Linked DNA regions of Homo sapiens. The protein of the gene in region 1 purifies or fractionates together with the protein of each later gene. This does not show direct contact. Each region holds a gene or a part of one and is shown in the gene's direction. Other genes may lie near its edges.

Region 1 (8,164 bases):
CTGAGGCAAGAGAATCGCTTGAACCCGGGAGGTGAAGGTTGCAGTGAGCCAAGATTACGCCACTGCACTTCAGCCTGGGTAAGAGAGCGAGACTCCATCTCAAAAAAGAAAGAAAGAAAAAAAAGAAAGAACAGGACCTGACTAGGTGGAGAGAAGAGTGGGAGGAAATGGCCATATAAAGACCCTAAAGCAGGAGAGTGCCAGGAAGGCCAGGGACATGGTATGAGCTTAATGGGATTTGGCAGGGGCAAGATTCTGTATGGCTTTACAGGCTTTGGTCTATGCTAAGAACTGTCCCAAGATGCAACCAAAATGTATATGATTTTAGGGACTCAGTGGTCAAATATTTATGGACCACCTTCAAGTGTATTTAGAACTCTGTGGAAGGATGGCACAGAGTTCTAAGTTACAGTTTTAAAGTTATCTATAATTCAGTTCTCAGTTATCTATAATAAATTTGAGAGATGCAACACCTACACACAAAACAACTAATAAAGCAACCCAATATATAGAACAATTAGTGTTATGGCTATAACAATAATATGTGAAATGTTAAATTGTGTGCTACAAATACAGAATGGCATGTAATTAGCTAATTGTTTAATATTGTAATCAGCAATAATATTGATGTGAGGTATAAAGTGTGCTACAAATACAGAATGGCATGTAGTGGCATGTAACTAGTTAATCATGTTCATTCTGATCATTGTTGGGATTTAGGTAAGGAATTAATGTGATTTTATTTTATTTATTTATTTTTTTTGAGATGGAGTTTCTCTGTTGCCCAGGCTGGAGTGTAGTGGCCCGATCTCCGCTCACTGCAAGCTCCGCCTCTCAGGTTCACTCCGTTCTCCCTCCTCAGCCTCCCAAGTAGCTGGGACTACCGGCGCCCGCCACCATGCCTGGCTAATTTTGTTTTTGTATTTTTAGTAGAGATGGTGTTTCACCGTGGTAGCCAGGATGGTTTCGATCTCCTGACCTCGTGATCTGCCCGTCTTGGCCTCCCAAAGTGCTGGGATTACAGGCGTGAGCCACCGCGTGCCCAGCCATGATTTTTTTTTTTTTTTTTTTTTTTTAATGATGGTCAGACTCCATGAAGCAGGTGGCAGTGCCTTACCATATGTGTATTGTCAGGCCCGAGGGCCTCTTCCATCTTTGTCAAGTGGAGTGCCAACCTCTCCTTTCGTATAACACAAATTCATGTGATTTTAATGAGTGTTGCTTCTATGATTATATTCAAATGTCATAGTTTTTTAAAGCCTTTTTTTTTTTTGAGACGGAGTCTCGCTCTCTCGCCCAGGCTGGAGTGCAGTGGCGCGATCTCGGCTTACTGCAAGCTCTGCCTCCCGGGTTCACGCCATTCTCCTGCCTCAGTCTCCCGAGTATCTGGGACTACAGGCGCCCGCCACCATGCCCGGCTAAATTTTTTGTGTTTTTAGTAGAGACGGGGTTTCATCGTGTGTTAGCCAGAATGGTCTTGATCTCCTGACCTCATGATCCGCCCGCCTCGGCCTCCCAAAATGCTGGGATTACAGGCGTGAGCCACCGCGCACAGCCAAGCCTATTTTTTTTCTTATTTTACAATTGAAAACAGTGATTATTGGAATTTACTTTGAACAAGTGCATTATCAAATTAAATATATGAGTGTCTTATGTTCAGGATATGGTGCTTGACATTGAAACAGATGGACTCTTGCCTTAAATGTAGGGTAGTAAGTAATAAAAGGCTAATGTAATATATCAGATCTAAGGTATATGTAAATGTGATTTTTAACAATTTCAGAAGAAAGGGGAGATTGCAGCAGGTAGAGCTGGTCTAGGAAGCCTTCTTAGAGGAAGGATGTGATTTGAGGCTTTATGTTAGCAAGGCATAGGAGGATGATTTTGTTCAGAAAGCACAGGAAAGATAAAGTGCTACTTGAAGAGAGCAGTTAGTGGTTCTTCCTTTCAGTGCCAGATTGATGAGTATTTGCTGCTTTTTGGCAGAAAACTTTTAGCCTTTAATTACTAATGACCTGCCTCATTTTTCCTTTCCTTTTCTTAGTGAAGCTATTAAGTACCTCACAGAAGCTCTTCAGTCTATCAGTGAATTAGAGCTTGAAGATAAACTGGAAAAGATAATTAATGCAGTTGAGAAGCAACCCTGTAAGTAATATTTTCTGATAACTCCTAAATTGTTAATATAGTTCTGCATCTTCAGTTAGATGTATAGATTTAAATTGAAGTTGAGGCTTCACTATTAAGATGTCCCAGTGTTATAAGATGTATGCATGGTAGCATTTCTTCCCAAGGGGTAATACCTTTAGTTTATTTTAATTTTTTTTTCTTTCTTTTTTGGGATGGAGTCTCGCTCTGTTGCCCAGGCTGGAGTGCAATGGCGCTATCTTGGCTCACTGCAACCCCCACCTCCCGGGTTCAAGCAATTTTCTTGTCTCAGCCTCACGAGTAGGTGGGATTACAGGCACACACCTCCATGTCAGGCTAATTTTTTGTATTTTAGTAGAGATGGGGTTTCACTGTGTTGCTCAGCCTGGTCTCAAACTCCTGGGCTCACGCAGTCCACCTGCCTCGGCCTCCCAAAGTGCTAGGATTACAGGCGGGAGCCACCACACCCGGCCTTTTTTATTTTAACTGTTGATGACATCCAAACCCTTAGTTTAGTTGGAACCTCAGGATGATCCCCAAGGGCCCTTTTATAGTTCCTTTCCCCCAGTGGAGGTGTCACCACCATGTTTCCTGCACTTGGCTTCTGATTTTGATCTGGTCCTTTATGGTCACTTTGTCTCTCCTAGTGGCTATTACCATGTCTTATTTAAGTCATTAACTCCTAAATGTTTGGGAGGAAAAAAAGAAGAGTAAAGTAAACAGAGCTGACATCTCTTCTTGATTTCTTCAGGGATTTTTTTTTTTTAATAGAATGGCTAGTCATTTTAACTTAATTTTGTAAGTCTAAGTTAAAGGGCAGAGACAGTAACTTTTCAATAAAAAGCAATTCTACTAATGCACTGATAATGAATACACTAAACAGAGTTGGAAGGCATTTTACTGAAAGCAAACTGTAGAAAATAGACTTTTTTTTTTTTTTTTTTTTTTTTTTCCCTGAGAAGGAGTCTTGCACTGTCGCCCAGGCTGGAATGCAGTGGTGCTATTTCGGCTCACTGCATCCTCTGCCTCCTGGGTTCAAATGATTCTCCTGCCTCAGCCTCCCGAGTAGCTGGGATTACAGGTGTGCGCCACCATGCCTGGCTAATTTTTGTATTTTTAGTGGAGACGAGGTTTCACCATGTTGGCCAGGCTGGTCTCGAACCGCCAACTTCAGGTGATCGCCCACCTCGGCCTCCCAAAGTGCTGGGATTACAGGCGTGAGCCATTGTACCTGGTGAAAATAGACATTGATACAAAATTATATAACGCTTGTGATAAGAATAAGTGGGGCCAGGCATGGTGGCTAACACCTGTAATCCCAGCACTTTGGGAGGCCGAGGCTGGTGGGAACGCCTGAGTTCAGGAGTTCAAGGTCAGCCTGGACAACATGGCAAACCCTGTCTCTACTAAATATACAAAAATTAGCCAGGCATGGTGGCAGGCGCCTGTAATCCCAGCTCCTTGGGAGGCTGAGGCAGGAGAATCGCTTGAACCCGGGAGGCAGAGGTTGCAGTGAGCTGAGATTATGCCACTGCACTCCAGACTGGGTGACAGAGTGAGATTCCGTCTCAAAAAAAAAAAAAAAAAAGAATAAGTGGATTTCAAGAAAAGCACATTCTATAAAAGATGGTCATTTTTTTCTTGAGTATACCAAAGTTATGAAACATAAGGTGACCCAGGAAGGTAGAGGTTTGGGAACTCCTTCAAGGCATTTGCTTTCTACACACTGCTTCCCTCCTCTCCCTTTTTTTTTTTTTTTTTTGGTGAGAGCGGGACAGAGTCTCACTCTGTTGCCTAGGCTGGAGTGCAATGGCGCCATCTCGGTTCACTGCAATGGCGCCATCTCGGTTCACTGCAATGGCGCCATCTTGGTTCACTGCAGCCTCTGCCTCCCGGGTTCAAGCGATTCTTCTGTCCCAGCCTCCTGAGTAGCTGGGACTACAGGTGCGTGCCACCACACCAGGCTAATTTTTATATTTTTGGTAGAGACAGGGTTTCACCATATTGGTCAGGCTGGTGTTGAACTCCTGACCTCAGGTAATCCACCCACCTTGGCCTCCCAAAGTGCTGGGATTACGGGCGTGAGCCACCACACCTGGCCCCTCCTCTCTTTCTTCATGTTCTTTTTTGGAAAGTCACATCTGTTGAAACATGCCCAAAGAAGCTAGAATGGGGCCACCAATACATGAACTAAACCTCTGTTCCAGTTTTTTATGATTTGCAGTCCATTTCAGCCATATACTTCGGGGAGTTTTCTGAGACACCTCTCTATTCAACCTGTCAGTAAAACTGTATCAGCATGTTTCCTCTTGCCACTGCCACACTGCCATAGGGATTCAGGGACCTTTTTGTTAAATACTTAATACCACAAGCATGGGACTGGAAAGAAGAAATGCTCTTCCCCTTGGAAAAAAAGTCTGATATTTATAGCACCCTGAGGATAGAAGTGGGTATGGCTCACTGTCCACTTTATCTTAGCATAAAAGGCTGAGAAGTGCCGAGTTCACTCTTAATGTTATATAGATGCTAGTCACTTCAATTATATAGGAAGAAACATACTCCGTGATACAGGATAAATGGTTATTATATCTCATTTTCATTCCTAAAGGCAGAATTTTACATATACCTTTGCTTAAAAAATTCCTTTACAGTTGAACATTTAGAAACTGATACTTGTCTCACGCCTGTAATCGCAGCATTTTGGGAGGCTGAGGCGGGCGGATCACGAGGTCAGGAGATCGAGACCATCCTGGCTAACACAGTGAAACCCCGTCTCTACTAAAAATACAAAAAATTAGCTGACAGAGCGAGACTCCGTCTCAAAAAAAAAAAAAAGAAAATGATACTTGTCCCTGTGTACATTGATTTAAGATGGCACATGGTATTTTGCTTGACAACATATCAAAGTGATTAAAAGAGCCCCCACTGGAATCAGTCCTGGGTTTTTGTTGCTCTCTATCTCTTCTAGTTTTTGGGCAAAATTTTCAACCTCTTAAAGTTGTATTTTCCCTATCTATAAGATATGGGCATCTTAACATCAGTCTTACAGGACATCTACCCAGTGGAATAATACTTGTAAATAAAGTACTGAGGATGGTGCCACACATTTACTCAATGCTTAATAAGTGGTAGCTGCTATTGTTACTATCATGCTCATTGAAACTGAGCAGTTATGATGATAAAGTTATACTAATGTAACCTTATTAAAACTGGGAGCTTAGAGAATTTTTTTTTTTTTTGAGATAGTATCTCACTCTGTGTGGCCCAGGCTGGAGTGCCAGTGGCATGATCACAGCTCACTGCAGCCTCCACCTCCCTGGGCTCAGGTGATCCTCCCATCTTGGCCTCCTGAGTATCTGGGACTACAGGCATGTGCCACCACCCCCAGCTAAGTTTTATATTTTTTGTAGAGAAGGGGTTTCACCACGTTGTCTGGGCTGGTCTCAAACTCCTGGGCTCGAGCCATCCTCCTGCCTTGGCCTCCCAAAGTGTTAGGATTATAGGTGTGAGCCACCGACCCTAGCTCAGAAATGTTCTTATAACTAAACAGGGTTTAGAAAATTAAGGCATTTGACTGTATATTAAGGTATTGTAACTTTGAGTGTGGAAAATGAAGGTATTTGAGATAAGGCTTTTGTTATTGTTCTGACCTAACACTTTTTTTCTCCAAAAACTGTATAATGAGAATCTCAGTATTAATATTTGCAAATTATTTTTGGGAAAAGAGCTGTCTGTGGAAAGAACTATTTTTTTTTTTGTTTTTAAATTTTGACTTTGAAATTCTCTTTTCAGTGTCATCAAACATGATTGAACGATCTGTGGTGGAAGCAGCAGTCCAGGAATGCAGTCAGTCTGTTGATGAAACTATGTATGTGGGTACAGTTAACTTTTTTCCTCCTTGGAGGTGTTATTGAGCACTTATTTTTAATTATTGTCTTGGAAAATTATTAGTGATCAACGTTTCTACAGTGATTACTGTTGTTATTTCTGTGTGTCTTTTTAAATAATGGCTTTCTTTGCAAACCTCATTATTAAATGACTCATCTTTACTGGTTTTTCCTGGGATTTGAGGTTACAGTGTTGCTTGTACCATTCATTACTAACTTTTGCTGCCTACCCAACCGGTTGATCTGACTTTTTATTCTGTATGCTACAAATGAGTTGAATTGAAATGAATATTCAGAAGTATAATTTACTTTGCTCTTAGGAAAGTACCATGTCCAGAGAAGTTCAGCAACTTTACTTGGTCACATGGTGAATGGCAAATGAGGGTAGGACCTCAGTTTTGTGACTCCACTATGTCATGTTTTTAGGTTTAAGAATTTATATGGCAGTAATTCTTCTGGGTTTTATTTCTCTGAATATCCCTCTTTCCTCTTGATATGATACTTCTATACAAATTGATGGCATTTAACTGGAAGGAAAACACTGGGGAAAATGGGCTGAGAGACAGTTTTAACATTGCCACTTCTTTCCTATTTGGGGCAATGGAGATGATTGAAAGGAGTCATTATCTTTATTTTAGTCAGAAGTTATAATCTTCTCCCTGTCAGAACTTATAACTGCTAAAAAAAAAATAGAGAAATTGAGGATTTTTAATTTTACCCTTGCAAACTCATTTAAAATACTATAGTGTGACCAGATGCAGTGGCTTATGCCTGTAATCCCAGCACTTTGGGAGGCCAAGGTGGCTGGATCACTTGAGGTCAGGAGTTCAAGACCAGCCTGGCCAACATGGTGAAACCCATCTCTACTAAAAATACAAAAATTAGCTGGGCGGTAGTGGGGCGCACCTGTAATCCCAGCTACTTGGGAGGCTGAGACAGGAGAATTGCTTGAGCCTGCGAGGTGGTGGTTACAGTGAGCTGAGATCATACCACTGCACTCTAGTCTGGGCGACAGAGTGAGACTCTGTCTCAAAAAAAATACATAAAATAAATACTGGAGTATAATGAATGTTCCTAAAGCCATCAATAGAAATTCAAAATGATTGTACTGAAGTTTGATTATTATCCTAAAATAGACGTTACTCGTTGTTTACCCTAAAGTTACCTGTTATTTATTTATTTACTTATTTTCCCCCACACCAATCTGCATTCACTTTATTCTTCTGTTTATACATTCTCTTGCTCCCAGATTTGGAGGCAGAACGTAATATGAGCTCAACAGTCCTGCACAGAGCCATGTACCATATCGCATCAGTTTTCCTTTTCCCAACCCCTATTCCACCCCCACTCAGTAAAGCCCCTTGTCCAGGTGTTGCTCTTGGGGGTAAGAAAGCAGAAAAGCAGGCTGGGCGCAGTGGCTCATGCCCGTAATCCCAGCACTTTGGGAGGCCGAGGTGGGCAGATCACCTGAGGTCAGGAGTTCGAGACCAGCCTGGCCAACATACAGCAAAACCCCGTCTCTACTAAAAAATACAAAAATTAGCTGGGCATGGTGGTGCATGCCTGTAGTCCCAGCTATTTGGGAAGCTGAGGCAGGAGAATCGCTTGAACCCGGGAGGCGGAGGTTGCAGTGAGCCAAGATCGTGCCACTCTGCTCCAGCCTGGACAACAGAATGAGACTTGTCTCTCAAAAAAAAAAAAATAAAATAAATAAAATAAAATAAAGAAAGAATGGGTAGAGATTCCAGTGAGTGATGGGAGCCTCTTTCCAAGGCACAAGGCGCCACCTTCTCAATATGGCCACTGCTTTGTTCAGATTTGGGCAGTGTGCTGGCCAGGAGCTGGGGGCTGCAGTACCTCCAGCTGACTGAGGAGGCAAGCATTGTGAGGGTGCTGCTGCAGGTCCACAGTCATCATTGAGGCCAGGAGCTGCCACACTCCTGAAGAATGCGTGGGGCTTTGTGGGATGCTGAGTTGGTTCTGCACAGCAAGGGCCACACTGTCACGTTTCTTGAACACCATTTCGTAAGGGCCTTCCCCAAACATTGTGGCATATATCACACAGCCCAGGGACCAGACATCAGTCTGTTCATCAATGACACAGTGACTGCTCAGGGAAGAGCTCTAGGGCT
Region 2 (8,164 bases), on another chromosome or scaffold:
CTTTGACAGCCATTGTCAGGAGTGAGTTCCTTCCTAGGGCCTGGGATATGAATCCATGGACCAAAGGGAGAAAGTTGGGGAGGGAGGAATGAGCAAAGTAACCAGAAGTACCTTTCGGGAGGATTTGTATCATAGCTGTGCTTTGAAGGTCGAGGAAGAGGAGAAAGTGCTGTCTTTCCAGGTAGAAATATGTGTGTAAAAGCAAGAAGGTTAGGATGAGCCAAGCATGTGCAAGAGACAGTAGAAATGAGGTTGTGGAAGTAGGGGCTAGATATTAAGGGCACTGAAAATCAGGAAAAGTGGTATGAAGTTTATCAAGACATTTCCAGAGACCTTTTGTAGTTTCAGCTGATGATGGATGTGATAAGAGCTGAGCTGTGTGGGAAACTGATAGCCCACCACCACGCCCAGCTAATTTCTGTATTTTCAGTAGAGAGGGGGTTCACCATGTTGTCCAGGCTGGTCTCAAATTCCTGACCTCAGGTGATGTGCCCTCTTTGGCCTCAGAAAATGTTGGGATTACAGGCATGAGCCACTGTGCCCAGCTGCTTCTTCTTTCTTACAGGGTGAAAGAGAGAGGGAGAGAGAGAGAGACAGAGAGACAGAGAGAGAGAGAGAGAAAGAGAGAGAGAGTTGGTTATGCTGGGGGCTGGAGCAGGGCTGAACTGGAAGAGGATGAAGTCTGAGTTGTGTGGACAGTTTTGGTAAGGAAAATGATCAGTACTGCATACTGGATGGGAGACAGAGGAGAGAAGCATGGTGTCCAAGCTATACTCTAGGTGCCTAGGTGCATGGAGACAGCTCTCTCAGAGATAGGATGCAGGGAGAGAAGACAGTCTAGAGAGTCAGTCTCATGACTGATACCCACCATGTATCTCTAGGACCATCTATTTCTAGATACTCAGTTTCCTGATGGGAGGTAGCTCCTGGCTGCTGGTGGGAGGTGTTCCTGGGGCTTTGCATACGTTACATTGTTGCCTCCCTTTCTGCCCTTGCTCTGCAGGAGGCCCAGTGAATATATTGCCACCATCTTGGAGCTCAGTGCCCTTGTAGAGAAAAGAAGCCAGCATATCCTCCAGCACATGGACTTTCTGTATTACCTCTCCCATGACGGGCGGCGCTTCCACAGGGCCTGCCGCCTGGTGCATGACTTCACAGACGCTGTCATCCGGGAGCGGCGTCGCACCCTCCCCACTCAGGGTATTGATGATTTTTTCAAAGACAAAGCCAAGTCCAAGACTTTGGATTTCATTGATGTGCTTCTGCTGAGCAAGGTAGGTTTCTCTATGATCTGAATTTAGGTGAGAGAATAGAGCTTCATGTCAAATGTCAGGTGAAATAAATTGGTTTTGATCCAAAGGGCACTGGGAGCCATGGAAGATGCTTGAGAAAGGGAAGGTCACAGATAGGTTTTAGAGATGACTTTATTGCATGCAGCCCACAGGGCACTGCTAATTCTGAAACTGTGAGGAGCATGATATTTTATTCAACTTATAAGTTAGTGTGTTAGTCTTTCACATTTTTATGTGTATCTATATGTCTATGTCTTTGTCTATGTCTGTATCTATGATAAAAGATGCACCAAACCCCTGGATCACAGCAGCCCATTAATTATTTACAGCAGTAACAGCAGGTGGAGTAGGATGGTAGTGCTGGCTCCCCATTCCTAGGGCAACACAATGTTTTTACCTGTAAATGCACAAGAATTTGCACCAAGGAGAGGGGCCCCCACATTATGAGTATTATAGCTTATATAGGACAGCTAGCTCATATGCTCCTTCTTTATTACAGGGTGAAAGTTAGAGACAGAGAAAGAGAGAGAGAGAGAATGCTTTGTTCTGGCGTATAAACTACCCCTCTCCTGTGAGATGGCAATTTCTAGAGTTTTATAACCCAAATATCTTCTGGAAAGATAAGATTCTCTGGGTTTACCACTCTAGAATGTCAGCAAATATTTTTGGAGCAATACATAATTTCTAACCTCCAAGGCAAATTGCCATTCAAATATCCTGTACCCCAGGTTGCCAGTATCTTTTTCTCTGAAAGTCTGTATTATGCAGAAAAATGAAAATATTCGAGAACCATTGATTCCTGTCACCAGGGTCCAAAGAGGAGGCAAAGGATCTGGGGGAAGCCCTTGGAGTTGGGGCTTTGGTGATGGTGAACAAGAGAGATCTAGACGTGCAGAGTGCATTTGAGTTTCTGGAAGATCAGAGCTTCAGAGATTATCTCAGGTTAGACTCCGGAGTCTCAGAGATAGTATAATTTGTGTGTGTGTGTGTGTGTGTGTGTGTGTGTGTGTGTGTGTGTCTTGCTTTCTCTTCAGGATGAAGATGGGAAGGCATTGTCAGATGAGGATATAAGAGCAGAGGCTGACACCTTCATGTTTGGAGGTGAGGGTCCCAGTGTGGGACTACAGTGGAGACAGAGGTCCCTCCATCTCAGGATCCGGGTGGGTGGACCCTGGATCACTCCATTCTGCCCATCTTCCCCCTCCCTCCATCCTCCTGAGGGCCTCAATATCTGGGCGCTGTCCACCCTCCGGTGCTGAAGCCAAGCTTACCTGGCTGCTCCTCAGGCCATGACACCACGGCCAGTGGCCTCTCCTGGGTCCTGTACAACCTTGCGAGGCACCCAGAATACCAGGAGCGCTGCCGACAGGAGGTGCAAGAGCTTCTGAAGGACCGCGATCCTAAAGAGATTGAATGGTGAGTGCAAGTTCTTCTGGCCTGTTCCTGAGCCCATCATTGGTTCTGCTCCCCAAGTGAGGAGGGGTGGAGGAGTTGTTTTGTGGATTCTTCCACTATTGCTTAGTGGGTATAAAAGCAGAGGACCACAGGCAGGGCTTGATACCAAGCCTGGCTGTCAGGGGAAAAGTTGCAGGCCTTTAGGACCGAAAGACCCGGGCTGCTAAGAGAATTGGTGACAATGTGTGAGGACAGATAATGCTACTTTGCACATGTTCAGCAAATGAACTTCCCCTCCACTCTGTTTCTGTTCTCCCAGAAATATCAGTTTTTTCGAAAATCCTCACTTCTTGAATGTTTGCTCAGGTGGGGAGGGAGAAGTTGTTTTTGTCAATTCTTCCATTATTGCTTAGTAGTACTAGGAGCAGAGCACAGAGGCAGAACTTGGTATCCAACCTGGCTAGCAGGGGAAAGTTTTCAGACTTTTGGGACAGAGAGTCCTAGCCCGCTGAGAGAACTAAGGACAATATATGAAGGCAGACGATGACATCTAGACATGTTCAGTCAATGAATTTTCCCTTCACTCCTTTCTTGTTTACTCTGAATTATCATATTTTTTTCAAACATCTTTACTTCCTGAATGTTTACTCTTCTGTTCCCTAATTCCTACCCTCCGGTCCAGTCCAGGGAGTCCTAAGGGAGACCTGGGGGTAAAAGTCATCTATCTTTTGTCTAGAACACCTGCATCGTTCATCCATTCAGTCTTCATTCAGCAAACTCTTCCACATGCCTTTCCATTGCCAGTTCTGTTCCCACACCTTTCTGTGCTCTGGAGACCTGGAAAGAACCCTGCCTATGGATGTGTTTTCCAGGTACTCCCAGCCTAGTAGGAACAGTCCCCCACAAGACATTCCCAGTCCACATAGGCAAGGATGGAGTTGAGAGCAAGAGAAGCATGGCTGGGAGTACAGAAAGTGTGATAGAAAGTGTTTCAAGCCAGATCTGGTGGCTGTCGCTTGTGATACCAAGTACCGAGGAGGCTGAAGTGGGATAATCACTTGAGGTCAGGTTTAAGATCAACCTGGGCAATATAGAAAGAACCCATTTCTAAAAAAGTAAAAAACCAAAATAATAAAGTGCCTCAACTGAAACCCTGAATGGTGATCAGTAGGTGTTTGGATGCAGTAGTGCCCTAGGTCAAAAAGAAAGTCTGGGCAAAAATGCAAAAAGAGGGAGCAGGAGAGAGGGAGAAGAGGGAAAGAGAGGTTTGTGTGTCAGGGAAGGAGATGGTTATAAAGGGAGGGAGAAGTAAGAGGGAGGAAAAGTGAGGGAGAGCAAGATAAAGAGAGGAGGGAAGACAGAAGGAGACAGAGAGAGAATGAGAGAGAAAGGAACTGAGTTGTGATGAGATAATAACTATGGTAGTGAAAGCAGAGTCTGGCTGTGGAAAATATGGGAAAATGGTAATGGCTTCCATTTTAACCCAAAGGCAATGGGAAGCCATAACAAGTGGTTGAGCAGGGGAGGGGCAGGTCATATCTGGGCACCAGAAAGATCTTTTCAGAGCTACTGTGGAGAGAGGACCAGCTGTAGAATGAAGTCCCAGTGAAGACATTCTGGGACCTGAGCCAGGGCAGGGGCTGGGGATGGAGAGGAGGCAATGGACTGGACATGTGTTTTGGAGGCCGTGTCCTCCCGTCCAAGCCTTTGCTCAGCACAGCAGTCCTAAAAGGTGGCAACACTTTTTATGCTTTTAAAAACCAAGATATCAAGTAATACTGTGCACTTTGTAAACAAAAAAAAGTGTCTAAAACATTTATAAAAATGAGCTTTCCTCATGCCTGTAATCCCAGCACTTTGGAAGGCCGAGGCGGGCGGATCACGAGGTCAGGAGATCGAGACCATCCTGGCTAACACGGTGAAACCCCGTCTCTACTAAAAGTATAAAAAATTAGCCGGGCGTGATGGCAGGTGCCTGTAGTCCCAGCTACTCTGGAGGCTGAGGCAGGAGAATGGCGTGAACCCGGGTGGCGGAGCTTGCAGTGAGCTGAGATGGCACCATTGCACTCCAGCCTGGGCAACAGAGTGAGACTCTTTCTCAAAAAAAAAAAAAAAAGAGCTTCCTTCTTAACTGTCACCCTAGTAGTTTCTACCATCAATGGTTTTGTGTGTCCCTCCAGAAGATGGCTATCTTGATGCCCACTTTATAAGAACACAGACTTCTTCTATACAAATAAGAGTGTATAAAATAGACACAGTACTTTTTCCCAAGATGGTGGGTTGGAGGCAATGTCAGTGTGCCTCTCCCATGTGGAAGGACAGAATAGTGTGTAGAGATTCACAGTGTAAGCTTTCTTTTCCCAAGAAACAACACAGGGACTTAACAGGAAAACCAGAAGAATCCACAAACCCTTCAAAAGAAGCTACAGGCTGCATTCTACTCTGTGAGACAGGTGAAAAACTGTGAATCCTCAGAGTAAGAGGGGGAGAGACTGCTTCCTAGGTACACATCTTCACTGGGGAATCTGAAAATCCAGACCACAGGAGAAGGCCTTAACTCTATCCAGGGCTTGAACTGATTTAGGGAGTGGTAAGAAATATAAAAGTAGAAGCAGCAGCAGGAAGTCCCTTGCAGGCATTCACAATCTCCAGCATGGACTGAGGGAAGCCATTCCTTATTGTATCTCACAGGGGACCTTGGGGAAGTCAGACAACTAGCTCAGGTGAGGTCACAGGTTGAACGAAATGCCCAAATGAATTTCTTGATATAACCTCGAGTGGGGATGAACTCCCTTGACCAGAACCCGGGAGGCAAGCAGGAAGTGTGCTGCAGACAGGAGTTCAGAAGCTGGGTGCCTGGCCTTGGACAGGGACAAAAAAGGACATGGCCTGAAAGCATTGCTATTTCTGTGGGAAAAGCTTATGGCCTGGGGCAGGGCTGAGTTCTGTGCACAGACTGCCTGGATCTAAATCCAGTGCTATGAGTGGAACACTGCATGTGTGAGACCCACCTTGTGCCAACTGCATGGGAGCTAGATGAGGCTTACTGCCACCTGCTACTCTCCACTCCCTTGTCAAACTCTTCTGTGAGGCAGAGGCAGTTATACTCACCTCTGGATCATTACCCCAGTGACCTAAGAACCACCCTCTGACTCTCACAGGGCAAAACAAACAAACAAAAAAACAGTTGCAAAAAAAAAAAAATACCTAGGAATATACTTAACCAAGGAGGTTAAAGCTCTCTACAAGGAGAACTACAAAACAGTGCTGGACAAAACCATAGATGACACAAACCAATGAAAACACATCCCATGTTCATGGATTGGAAGAATCAATATTGTGAAAATGATCATAGTGCAAAGCAATCTACAGATTTAACGCAATGCCTATGAAAATACCTTCATCATTTTTCACACAACTGGGAAAAGCAATTCTAAAATTCATATGGAACCAAAACAGAGCCTGTGTAGTCAAAGCAATACCAAGCAAAAAGAAAAAATTTGGAGGCATCACATTACCGGACTTCAAATTACATTACAAGGCTACAATTACCAAAACAGCATGGTACTGGTATAAAAGTAGGCATTTAGATGAATGGAACAGAAAGGAGGACCCAGAAATAAAGCCAAATACTTACAGCCAACTGATCTTTGACAAAGCATACAAAAACATAAATTGGGGAAAGACACCCTATTCAATAAATGGTGCTGGGAAAACTGGACAGTCACATGTAGAAAAATGAAACTGCATCCCCATCTCTCACCTTGTACAAAAATCAAAGGCTTAAATCTAAGACAGAAACCATAACAATTTTATAAGATAACCTTGGAAAAACTCTTTTGGACATTGGCCTAGGCAAAGAATTCGTGACCAAGACCACAAAAGCAAATGCAACAAAACCAAAAATAAATCAGTGGAACTTAATTAAACTAAAAAGCTTCTGCACAACAAAATAATAATAATAATAATAGCCGACTTAACAGACAACCTACAGAGTGGGGGAAAATATTTGCAAACTATGCATCTGACAAAGGGCTAGTATCCAGAATCTACAAGGAACTCAAACAACTCAGCAAGGAAAAAAAACAAACAAACAATTAGTTCCATCAAAAAGTGGGCAAAGGGCATGAACAGATAATTCTCAAAAGAAGATACACAAACAGCCACGAAACATATGAAAAAATGCTCAACATCACTAATCATCAGGGATATGCAAATTAAAACCACAATGAGATACCATCTTGTTTCTACAAGAATGGCCATAATTAAAAAGTCAAAAAACAATAGATGTATGTTGTGGATGTATTGAAAAGTGAATGCTCATACACTGCTATGAAAATTAACATAACCTCTGTGGAAAACGATAAGGATATTCCTTAGCGAACTAAAAGTAAATCTACCATTCCATCCAGCAATCTCACTACTAGGTATCCACCCAAAGGAAAAGTGATTATATGAAAAAGACACATGCACATGCATGCTTATAGTAGCACAATTCACAATTGTAAAGGTACGGAACCAACCTAACTGCCCATTGACCAATGAGTGGATAAAGAAAATGTGGCATATATACACAATGGAATACTACTCAGTCATAAAAAGGAATGAAATAATGTCTTTTGCCGCAACTTGGATGGAGCTGGAGGCCATTATTCTAAGTGAAGTAACTCAAGAATAGAAAACCAAATACCATATATTTTCACCTATAAGTGGGAGCTAAGCTGTGAGGACACAAATACATACAGAGTGATATAATGAGCTTTGGAGACTCGGAGAGCAAGGTTGGGAGCCGGGTAAGGGAGAAAAGACTGCATATTGGGGACAGTATACACTGCATGGGTGATGGGTGCACTAAAACCTCAGAATTCACCACTATAGAAATCATCCATGTAACCAAACCACTTATATCCCAAATGCTATTGAAATAAAAGGAAGTAAAGAAGAGACAGATCTGCACATTAACAATATATCTTTGGGAGCTTTTCTTTTTCTAAAAATATGAGTTTTGGAAAATTAGTTCGTTTTTATTTTTAATTGGCAAATTTTAATTATATATGTTTATGGGGTGCAATGTGATATTATGATATATGTATACAACGTGGAATGATTAAGTCAATTTAATAAACATACCCGTCATCTCATATACTCATCATTTTTGTGGTGAGAATATTTGAAATTTGCTCTCTTAGCAATTTTGAGAAATTTATTATTATTAACTGTAGTCACCATGCATGCAATAGATCTCAAAACTTATTCCTTCTAACGGAAACTTGTACCCTTTGACCAATGTCTTTCCATTCTTTCTTCCTCCCTTCTCTGGTAACCACCATTCTCTTCTTGGTTTCTATGATTTCTGTGTTAATTATTTCAGATCTCACAGTTAATTAAGGTTATGTGCTGTTTGTCTCTTTGTGCCTGGCTCATTTCACTTAGCATAATGTCCTTTAGGTTCTTGCAGATTGCCACAAATGAAAGAA

The links.
Region 2: the proteins of POLE2 (region 1) and CYP4F12 purify together in Homo sapiens (affinity purification with mass spectrometry; 2 studies listed by BioGRID and IntAct, with this or other methods). This does not show direct contact.

Annotation. Positions count from the first base shown.
Region 1 is NC_000014.9:49,677,574-49,685,737, reverse strand, and holds part of POLE2 (DNA polymerase epsilon subunit 2), read left to right. Parts: intron 1-2,044; coding exon 2,045-2,145; intron 2,146-5,937; coding exon 5,938-6,013; coding exon of another isoform or gene 6,014-6,017; intron 6,018-7,228; exon of another isoform or gene 7,229-7,430; intron 7,431-7,757; exon of another isoform or gene 7,758-8,164. UniProt on the Homo sapiens protein: Accessory component of the DNA polymerase epsilon complex. Participates in DNA repair and in chromosomal DNA replication.
Region 2 is NC_000019.10:15,682,490-15,690,653, forward strand, and holds part of CYP4F12 (cytochrome P450 4F12), read left to right. Parts: coding exon 1-21; intron 22-1,003; coding exon 1,004-1,274; intron 1,275-2,326; coding exon 2,327-2,393; intron 2,394-2,578; coding exon 2,579-2,708; intron 2,709-8,164. UniProt on the Homo sapiens protein: A cytochrome P450 monooxygenase involved in the metabolism of endogenous polyunsaturated fatty acids (PUFAs).